Linked DNA regions of Homo sapiens: region 2 is linked to region 1. The links come from fine-mapping of genetic effects on gene expression. A gene starts in region 1. The other region holds a variant in brackets. All regions are shown on one strand. Distances are from middle to middle.

The links.
Region 2: its variant is fine-mapped to the expression of CAPS2 in blood mononuclear cells (TOPMed, PIP 0.99).

The regions. Positions count from the first base shown.
Region 1 is chr12:75,328,077-75,333,465 of GRCh38, reverse strand. It overlaps CAPS2 (calcyphosine 2), which reads left to right and starts at 3,142. Exons shown (of 17, transcript NM_001355024.4): 1 at 3,142-3,599. RefSeq lists an enhancer at 3,186-3,235.
Region 2 is chr12:75,387,920-75,393,308 of GRCh38, reverse strand. It overlaps GLIPR1L2 (GLIPR1 like 2), which reads right to left and starts at 2,220. Exons shown (of 6, transcript NM_001270396.2): 1 at 1,959-2,220. The coding sequence starts at 2,192. It also overlaps a transcript of CAPS2 not described here. RefSeq lists an enhancer at 2,159-2,288 and a silencer at 2,246-2,418. The variant G/A (reference allele first, on the strand shown) is at 2,316.

The sequences.
Region 1 (5,389 bases):
ACGTGTGTGTGTGTGTGTATATGTGTGTGTGTAGGTATACAGATAGATAAATCAATACAGTTATATACATCTACATGTGTCTATATATATATGTCTCTTCCTGGATATAAAGATATCTATAGGCATATACACACATACATATACACACATACATTTATATATGTAAAGTTCTCTCTATGTATAAATCTGTTTGTATACACATATATGTGTGTGTGTCTGCCTATAGACATATATACATCTACACAGAGAGAGATACAGATGTCTATAGGCATATATACATATACATATGTTTGTATACAAAGAGAAAGAGAACTTTTAAGGAATTGGCTCACATTACAGTGGGGGGCTACAATAAAAAATCTGAAGTCCTAGGTATGGCCCAAAAGACACTACATAATCTGACCATGGCTAGTTCTCTGGCATTCTCTCCTGGCTTATTCTGCATCAGCCACATCCATCAGCTTGATAAGGATGCTCTCTCCTCAGCATCTTTGCACTTGCTGTTACTTTTGCCTGCAGTGCTCTTTATAGAGTTCCCTTCAGTGAAGTCTTCCCTGATCATTCTATATCCCCTGTCTGTCAGTGCCTATCCATTTAACCTGTTTTATTTTTCTTCATTGCATTAATTACCTCCTGAATTTATGTTATTTATTTTTTTAACATCTGCCTTCTCTATCAGATTGTAGCCTTCACCACAACAGTAGCTTTGTTTTCTTCATTGCTACATCTCTAGCACCTTGAACAGGAACTGAATCTTTAGGCTCTCAATAAAAATTGGTCGAATAAATAAATGAGTTCTCTTTAACTTTCTAATAATGTTGTATACAACTGTAAGCTTCTTGAGAGCAGAAACTATATTTTAATTGTTATATATATGTATATATACATATGAGGGGCTCAATAAATATTTTTGACTTAATCACATAAAAGGAAATGCTGGGTAAGCTTATATATTTCACTTTTTCTAACACTGGGTATATTTGAAGATAGAAGGTGTTCAGTGGATGTTTGTCAAATACATAAGTGGCTGAATGAACAAATAAATACAAAGATAAAGTAAAATATTTTCAAGTAGTAGGTACTCAGTGAATGTTGGCTGCATTAATGAATGATCAAGTAAATGAAAATTTAAAGTTGAGCTTCAAATGCAAACTCTTTTGGAACTGCAAAACAGTAAAGGTTGATAGGGATAAGGTTAATAGGGATAAAGGTTAACAGATAGCTAATTTAGTTTCATTTAGTGTATAGAGAAATTAACTGCCTGTAACAACAACAGAAATTTCATAGAGTAATGAATTTAAAGATTGGCAAAAGTAGAGTATATATAGTCAAACATAATCCAAGATTATTGCTCTTCTAAGAGACGTTTTTAATAAAATGTCTGAATTGTATACATTATGTTTTTTAGATCATGTTCCCAATGGCTTAGACAGCTATATTCAGAAATACTAAAACAATTTAGGTGTAAAAAGTCTAATTGCCAGGAATCAACAAGTGCATGTCCTAATGTTATTTTCTTGAACATCTATTTCTGGAATGGCCAAGGTTAGTTGGTGCACCAGAATTTTTAAGTTCTTTTATAACTTTTTAAAAGTTAAATTTAGGCCGGGCGCGGTGGCTCACGCCTGTAATCCCAGCACTTTGGGAGGCCGAGGGGGGCGGATCACGAGGTCAGGAGATCGAGACCATCCCGGCTAAAACGGTGAAACCCTGTCTCTACTAAAAATACAAAAAATTAGCCGGGCGTAGTGGCGGGCGCCTGTAGTCCCAGCTACTTGGGAGGCTGAGGCAGGAGAATGGCGTGAACCCGGGAGGCGGAGCTTGCAGTGAGCCGAGATCCCGCCACTGCACTCCAGCCTGGGCGACAGAGCGAGACTCCGTCTCAAAAAAAAAAAAAAGTTAAATTTAGCTTTCTGTTTTATTTTTATGTGTGTTTTCTGCTATTTATTTTTGCTTTTCTTTCTATGTGGGGGTAATGGATAGATGAATTTTATGGAGTGCAGCAGAAAAATACAGAGTGATTACATTATACCTCATTTCCTTCACTATTTTTATACTTTAAAAATTTATTTGTATTTTTACTCCCAAATTTGCACCAGGAAATACTGGAAATATTCACGTTTTGATACATACATTCTGAGGGGAGCTAATTTTGAAAAGTTACTGCAGATTAGAAAAACATGATTATGAAAGAACTGGATTAACTTTCATAAACTCTTACTTCTAATTTGAATATCTGACTCTTGGCTGTGTAATTTAGGAAAGTTAGTGCATATTAGAGTGGAGTGGATCCTTGGAATTATCTCAAACCAGCTTTTTCCCTTTATAGATGAGGAGTTGATGCCAAGATATTGTGTACAGAGCATACATAAAAATATTTAGGCCGGGCATGGTGGCTCATGCCTGTAAATCACAGCACTCTGGGAGTCTGAGGCAGGGTATCACCTGAGGTCAGGAGTTCGAGACCAGCCTGCCCAACATGGTGAAACCCCCTCTATATAAAGATACAAAATATTAACCGGGCGTGGTGGTGGGCGCATGTAATCCCAACTACTTGGGAGGCTGGGGCAGGAGAATCGCTTGAACCTGGGAGGCAGAGGTTGCAGTGAGTCGAGATTGTGCCATTGCACTCCAGCCTGGGCAACAAGAAGGAAACTCCGTCTCAAAAAAAAAAAAAGGCAAAGAATAAAATGCAGGTTTCTTGATTTCTAGGCCTTTGCCCTTTCCACACATCATTTTAAATTTTAATTATATATACACACACAAATACACATACATATATATGCAATTATTCATGTAATCATCTATATGTACATAGTCACACAAATTTAAAGTAATATCCATGTCTAATATCTATGTATCTCTATATAATATATTACAGTCTTTAAAAAAAATAAGTGCAAGCTCCTTGAGAGCAGATATTGTAGCATATGCTTAAATTTCTTCTCCTCAAAACGTCATTCTGGGCTCTGTGCACAGACAGGTGCCTTATGAAATATGTTAAACAGAATTCAATTAGACAAAGAATTACACAACAACCGCCGTGGATCCGGGCCGGGCTTTGGCCCTTTCCCTGCTCAGGAGAAGCGCGGGTGAGTGAGTCCGCTCCGGCTCCTCGCCGGGGTTTAGGGGCGCCGCGGAGCCGGTTCCCTGGGAGGCTGCGGCGGCTGTAGCTGAGGTTTCACCCCTTTGGGTTTTCCAGCCAGCAAGTACTTCTGAGAGCGTGGCGGGGTCTCCGGCCACAAGCTCAGTTCCGGTCAGCCAGGCAGCGGAACTGAGGAGGCAGATTGGCGGGGGCGGGAGGTGGCGTAGAACGAACAAGGGACTTGGGCCGACGACCTTTTCGTCCCTGGAGGTCAGAGTGTAATCAGAAGCCCTGCGCTGCGGCGCCTGTTGCCGGGCAACCTGCAGACGCGGGCCTGGACTGTCTAGACTGTCCTGTCTAAAGCTTTCTGAATGCGGTTTTTGGAGGAATCGCGCTAGTTTATACCTTTTCCAACTCTTCTAACTCTGGACCTCTTCTTACCGAGCTTGTTAGGTGAAATCAGGCTGACTGTCTCTTGTGCCCCTCGCCTGTCCTGTCCAGGAATCCCAGTTAGGTAGGGGATGGGGAATTCCTTCTGCTACACTGCAGGTGCTCTGAATTATAATATAATTTGGGAGCAGGGGGAGTGATGGGGTGAAAGGAGATATTACCCTGTTTTGCTTGAAATTAGGAATGACCTAAGTTTCAATTCAGATATCTGGGTCTGTAGTCGTCTGGGATCAACATAGACTTGGTCCCTACCTTCATGTAGCTTAAATACTAAATTGTATTTACATCTCTTTCTTTTTTTCTTATTTATGGGCTGAATTAAATCAGTTTATTTTTTGCTTTTCATTTTTTTCTGATTTGATATAAGTAACATAATAGCCAGTAATATTACTACCGAGAGAAGTGATAATAATTGGAAGTGGAAATAGTCATCCTTAAAAAAAAATGAGGGAAATGGGAAGTGTGTTCAGTTATTTTTGGTAGCACTAAAGACATTAGCCAACAGTATTTATTATATGCTAGCAATATCATCTCATGACATGCAGCCATTTAAGTGGGGACAGAAGCCATTTAGAAGTGCTTTCCCTTCCTTTTGCTACTCCCTATCTCCAACATAGCCCAGCTGGATATTCAGTGCTTAATGACAAAGACAACCCTTGGCATAGGTTTCAAAGATTCACTCACAGCCAGTTGTTTGCTGATTCTTGTGCCACCAAGTTTAGGTTTCTAATTTTTTAGTCCCTACAGCTCATTCCCCTCGAATTCTTCTATTACCTTTACCAGTGAGGATGTAGTACTGAAAAGAGATCTGAAACCCACGTGTGAATTCGGGTCTGCAATAACTGGCAAACATTTAGCGAAGTACAGTTCACTTTTCTGGATCTCAGCTGGCTCGGTTTGAAGATCAGAAGGTTGAGCTGTTTTTGTCTTTGAAGCCCTGTCAAAATCTTAAAATTATCTACATAGGGTGTCAGTTGCCTGACTGCTCTAATTCCATAGATCCGAAAGTGTTCCATGTATGACGGCATTGCCCTTTGAATACTCTTACTATATCTAAGTTAACCACTTTTGTGTTTTGTCATTCCGAATTGACTGACTTCACTTATTTAACAAACATTTGTTAAGTTCCTACTACATTGTGGGCTTTCTAAATCCTGAGACATAGGGTGAGCAAATATGAGGCTTACAGTCTAGCATTAAAGACTAATAGCTATAATGCAATGCTTTAAACATCTTATCTAATTGAAGACAGAATTTGTATGTTGGCATTGTGATTATGTTACAGTTAGATGCAGAGAAAGGAATCTAAGAATATGTGTAAAATGTATACATGTATTTTGCTATACATTAATTTACTTATTAACAAAATATTTACTACCCATGCTTTGTTAAGGGTGGGAGACGCCAACCTTCTTGGTCTTGACTGTTTATTAGGGGAAAGAAAATCTAATGACAGTGAAGAGTGAAGACTGTCCTGACTGGGGAAGTACAGGAACTGGGAGGACCTGGACATTTGAGGATTTACATGTTGCCGCTTTTTAAATTTGCAAATAAATTATACTGATTTGAAATGACCTATAGTGATTTGAAATAGCTATAAATGTTACTAGGATATAAATAATTGAGAGACTGATGTGTGGAGAAAATCACTTTGCTGATTGTTCAGCGTCCTTATCTCAACTTGGGTTTGTTAGCCAGAAATCATCATCGCGAATACAATAATTTGTGTGATTAAACAACCAACCCAACCCTGGCCTCCAAAACAAAACAACAGCAACTTTTAAAAGTTGCTTCTTTGTGAAAAATAGCTCTGGAAAGAAAGCCATCTGTAGTGCTATAGGAGAATTTTTGAAT
Region 2 (5,389 bases), 60 kb before region 1:
TGCAAATGTACTTAATGCCACTGAACTATACACTTAAAAATGGTTAAAATGGTAAATGTTATGTCCTGTATATTGTAATACAATTTTTTAAAAACAACAATTTTTTTGGTATTTAAAAGCAAGGTAGAACAAAAGTACTACACGGCAATAGCATGAATAAGGATGGAAAGTATTCAGAATTTGTGTTCTAAGATCTTATTAATATTTGGGTGGAGTTTACAGGTATTAACTTTTGGAATTTATAAAAAGTACATACATTAAAATACTAAAAATAACCAATAAAAGAGTTTAAATAAGCTGAGTGATGTCCAAATCTGCTAAAGAAACATTTTAAATAGGCCATACTATTATGATAGACTATACTATTTACAGTTAATATTTATGTCCTAATAAAATACATGGGAAAAATATACATTAACTTCAAGAAAGAAGAAAAAGGTAAAAATTTAGGGTGGGACTTTAACCTATATATCAAATACTATTCCTTTAAAAATGTCTATATTTAAAAATATCGATTGTGGGTATACAGGTATATTATTTTATATACCTTATGTTTGAAATACTATATAATTTTTAGAGATGAGATAGAAAACCTATGAAAAGTTGTATTAGAAAGTATTATGTGTTTATTAATTTTCAGGAGTAAGGATAATCTTCAAATTGGGAAGAAACAGAATTAGTCACAAAAAATGGGAAATTAGTTGAAACTCCCAAATATCCCCAAACTCTATAATTGAATTCAAAAGAAAAAGAATTGGCTTAGAAAAAAGTATCTTCAGCAGATAGAACCAAATGCTAGCATAGTTCTATAAGACAGCATATAATCTGACATGGAAATGCTGACAATATAAAAGGTAAAGGAAATGACGAAGAAAGAACTCAAGTATGTCCTATCAAAATAGTATTTTAAAATCAACATTAAAACAAATGACCATTTTTGTAATTTATTCATTTAGCAAGTAATTGAACATGTCCAAATCAGTGAGGATGTGGTGAAAACAGAACAGCTGGTATTTGCTAAATTTGGCACTACCCTTTAGCATAGCAATTGCTATGTGTTAAATTAATAAAAAATATCATACCCTTAATTTATTTATCCCATTTCTGAAATTTGTGCTAAGAACTAATGCTGAAGGAAGAAAAGACATGTCTAGGAAAGTAGTCCTTGCAATATAATTTATAAGTTTGAAGCTTCTAATTCCCTAAGAGGACAGTTATTTATTTGCCGGATTTTCAGTCATTTTAATGACAGTCAGGAAAACTCAATAGCAACCAGGGAATAGTTGAGTTGTTAAATGACTATAGGGTGTAAAAGAGGGGGAAAGCAAGAACCGCATTGTAAGGTAAGGCAAAATCAGGGTCAAGACTAGGGTGAGGAAACTGAGACACTTCCTTAGGAGCCAAATTTGGAATGGGCACAAAAAAAAAAAATCAAGATAACAAACATTTTTAAAAGGCAAAGCTAATGTGACATCGATGATGGAAAAAGCTAAAAATAAAAATTTCAAATACAAACAGAATCTCATCTTGATTTGCACCACCCTGAGAGTGTCGCACTTGTTTTTCCCTAATCCAGACCCAAGGAACCTGTCTTTGTTAAATTTTTTAACATTTTCTTTACCCTTGATATTGATATTTTTGCACTGATTTTTAATTTTTAAAAACCCGTTGCATTAAAATATCATTTTCTTGAATTGGCGCCCCCTTAAAATCTGCACTTCAGGCCAGTGCCTCCATCACCTTAGTCCTGGCCCTGTGTAATATCATGGTAATAAGCATGTGTTAGAGTGTCCGCAGTTTTTCTCTGTGTAAACTTCACGTGTACTTTAAAAACCAAGCTAAAAGTGCGGTTCTCCGCGATCCTTCAGCCTCAGAGCAGTGGCCCCAACTACCCGAGATCCAGGGAGGCGTTGTGGCAACGGTAGTGGAAGGGTCGGCAAACCGCCTTCCGGCCTCACCATGAAGCGCAAGTTAGACCCTCGGGGAATGACGTCGCCCCGCAGCTCATTGTGGAGGTTCACGTACTCGTTGATAAAGTCTACGTCCTCCTCGTCTGGCAAAAATCTGGCGTTCAAACTAGAACCCAGTAGCAGTAGCCACAGCTCACAGAGCCGCAGCTTCAAAACGCCCCCTACTGCCAGGGGTAGGGACTGGGCCCTCCACTCCCGGGCGAAGGGCCTTGCGGCCTCCATGGTCCACCGGCCGCTGACAGGCCAGTGCGCACGCGCTGGCCGTCCCAGTGACCTGCCAATCTACGGAGGACGCAAGCAAGCCTTGTCCCGCCTCCCGGAAGGAGAAAGGGAGGAGGGAGGAGG[G/A]AAAAACAAAGGAGGGAGGAGGGGGTAAGGAGGAGGGAGGAGAGAAGAGGGAGGGGAGAGTGGGTAGGGGAGGGGGAGAGGAGGGGAAAGCTAGACCTGCAGAGTGAAGAAAGCTGGTAATAGATGTCTGACAAACTAAAGAAAGACTTGTGTTACGTGAGTAAGCCCTTTTCACTAAACTAATGTAGTGAAATGTTATCCCGAATTGATTTCTGACACTGAATGATATGTCGTTATTAATGAGTCATCAGTTTGTATGGTAAATGCCAATTGCTGAGTAACAGGTCTGAGGAACCTTCTAATTGTGCCAGGTGAAATGATTTTTCTGCGATACAGATACAAATTCAATTAAATTTTTTTTCCCCATTACCTGTTGAGTTGGAAATTTGGTGCAGGGCCTGCCTTTTATTTTCCTCAGGGACAGAATGGAATACAGAAATATTGCTAGTTCTTAAGGCCAAAGAAGTTCTTAAGGCCAACTTAATTGATGAGATTTTTTTCAGTTTTTAAATGAACCTTTGTGGGAAACCACAAAATAAATGGGAGTGAAGGGAGAGTAGGGATCACCAAACTCTTCAAAGGTTAAAACATTTCTACTTCTTCTCTCATCAGCACAATTCAGACAGCCCGGAATATCAAGATTCATCTTTTTCACTAATTGTGGCATTCACAGTAAGAACGAACTCTTTTGTTTTCTTTTTTTGTTCCAGACAAAATTGGCTAATATCTAGCTGATTTTGGTCTGATCTGTTTACCTCCAAACATTTTCCTCAAAAACAAAACAAAACAAAACCAACTTGCTTTGAAGACTTTAAATTCTAAGCATGGAAAAAAAGCAAGTATTAGTTTTGGAATACACGTTTGCATATTACATATTGTGCTTAATAGCATTAAGCAGATATGGAAAATTGACATTGGGAGAGAATTTTACTACAAAACATTGTAACAGGTTAGCCAAACATTTATAAAAAGAAAAGTGCTTTTAAAAATTGTCTGTGATGCACACAATTGAAAAACAATAGACCTATGTAAGATGGTTTCATTTATGCCCTTGAATACTTACTACTATGACTGCATAGTAGTAAGTTTTAAGTGATTGAGAAAGATCAGTAGACAAGACACAGATCCAGCTTTCAAGCAGCTTACAATTTAGTGAATTAGCAATCAGGCAGTATTTAAAACGTGATAAATACAAAGCCAAAATTCTATTGCTTGGTACTCTTGTGGAGGAGCAGGGAAGCCTTTCTGGAAATTGTATACAGAAAGTGAAACAGACAAGTCTAAGATAGCATTCTAAACAAAGGGAAAAGCATGTAATGTGCCTAAGGAGAGGAAGATCCTAAACGCTAGAAGTATTTTAGTATGGCTAGAACCTATTTAAGGGTGAAGGTGGCAAGTGCTGAAAGATGCAATTCTTTTATTATGGTGGTACTGTTGTTAGACTGCAAAAAATGCTAAAGAAAAAGTATAAATAGAATAATGCAATCTTAGATTTGGAAGAAATTTTAGCCACTATTGCTAGCCTCCTGTGTTAGGTATACTCTCCGGAACATCACTGACAGGTGATCATCACATCCTTTTCTTAAATAATTAGACCAACAGGGAAGCCCATTCCACTGCTAGACATCTCATTCAATAAATATTTCCTTGGTACTTCCTGTGTGTCACAGCCCAGCTAAAGGCTCAAATGCTGAACAAGCTAGACATGGAGTCTATCCACAGGGAGCTTTTAATTAAAGGTGACACAGATGAATCATCAAACAGTTACAATACAGAGTGGTGAATACTATTTTTAATCTATTTCACAAATATTTAATGTGTCAGGCACTATTTAAAATGCTTGGACAATATCAACTCACTCAAGTCACACAAATCTTAAGAAATAGTTATTATCCCTTTAACAGATGGAAAAACAACTGAGAAAAAGAGAAATCAAATTGCCTGAGGCCACCCAGCCAGGGAGTGGTAGAGCTACTTCTGTGTTTTTTTTGTTTTGTTTTGTTTTTTTTACCAATTCCTTTTCTAAAAATAGACTCTTTTTTAATAGCAGTTTTAGGTTCACAACAAAACTGAGAGGAAGGTACAGAGATTTCTCATGTAACTCCTGTCCCCACACATACATAAACTCCCTCATTATCAACATCCCACAACAGAGTAGTACATTTACAACTGATGAACCTACATTTATCCATTATTCCCACCCAGAGTTCATAGTGTATATTAGGGCTCATTCTTGGTGTTGCACATTTCATGGGTTGGTATAAATGTATAATGACATGTTTCCAGCATTTAGTACCATATAGAGTCGTTTTGCTGCCTAAAAATCCCTGGTGCTCAGACTATTCATCTCTCCCTGCCTCCTAACCCCGGCAACTACTAATTTTTTTTTACTGTCTTCATAGTTTTGCTTTTTCCAGAATGTCATATAGTTGGAGTCATACAGTATGTAGTCTTTTCAGATTGGCTTCTTTCACTTAGTAATATGTGTGTAAATTTCTTCCATGTCTTTTCGTGGCTTGATACCTAATTTCTTTTTAGCACTGAATAATTTTTCATTTTCTGGATGTACCAACATTTCTTTATTCCAGTAGCTACTGAAGGACATGTTGGCTGATTCTAGGTATTGGTGTATTATTCTATTCTCATGCCACTAATAAAGACAGACCCAAGACTGGGTAATTTATAAAGGAAAGAGGTTTGATGAACTCACAGTTCCACATGGCTGGGAGCCCTCGCAATCATAGTGGAAGACGAAGGAGGAGCAAAGGGACATCTTACATGGTGGCAGCCAAGAGACCATGTGCAGGGGAACTACTCTTTATAAAACCATCAGATCTCATGAGACATAATCATTACCATGAGAACAGCACGGGAAAAACCTGCCCCCATGATTCAGTTACCTCTCACCTAGTCTCTCCCATGACACGTGGGGATTATTACAATTCAGGGTAAGATTTGGGTGGGGACACAGAGCCAAACCATATCAATTTGCAAATGTGAATACAGTTGTTATAAACATCTTTGTGCAGGTTTCTGTGTAGACATAAGTTTTCAACTCCTTTGGATAAATACCA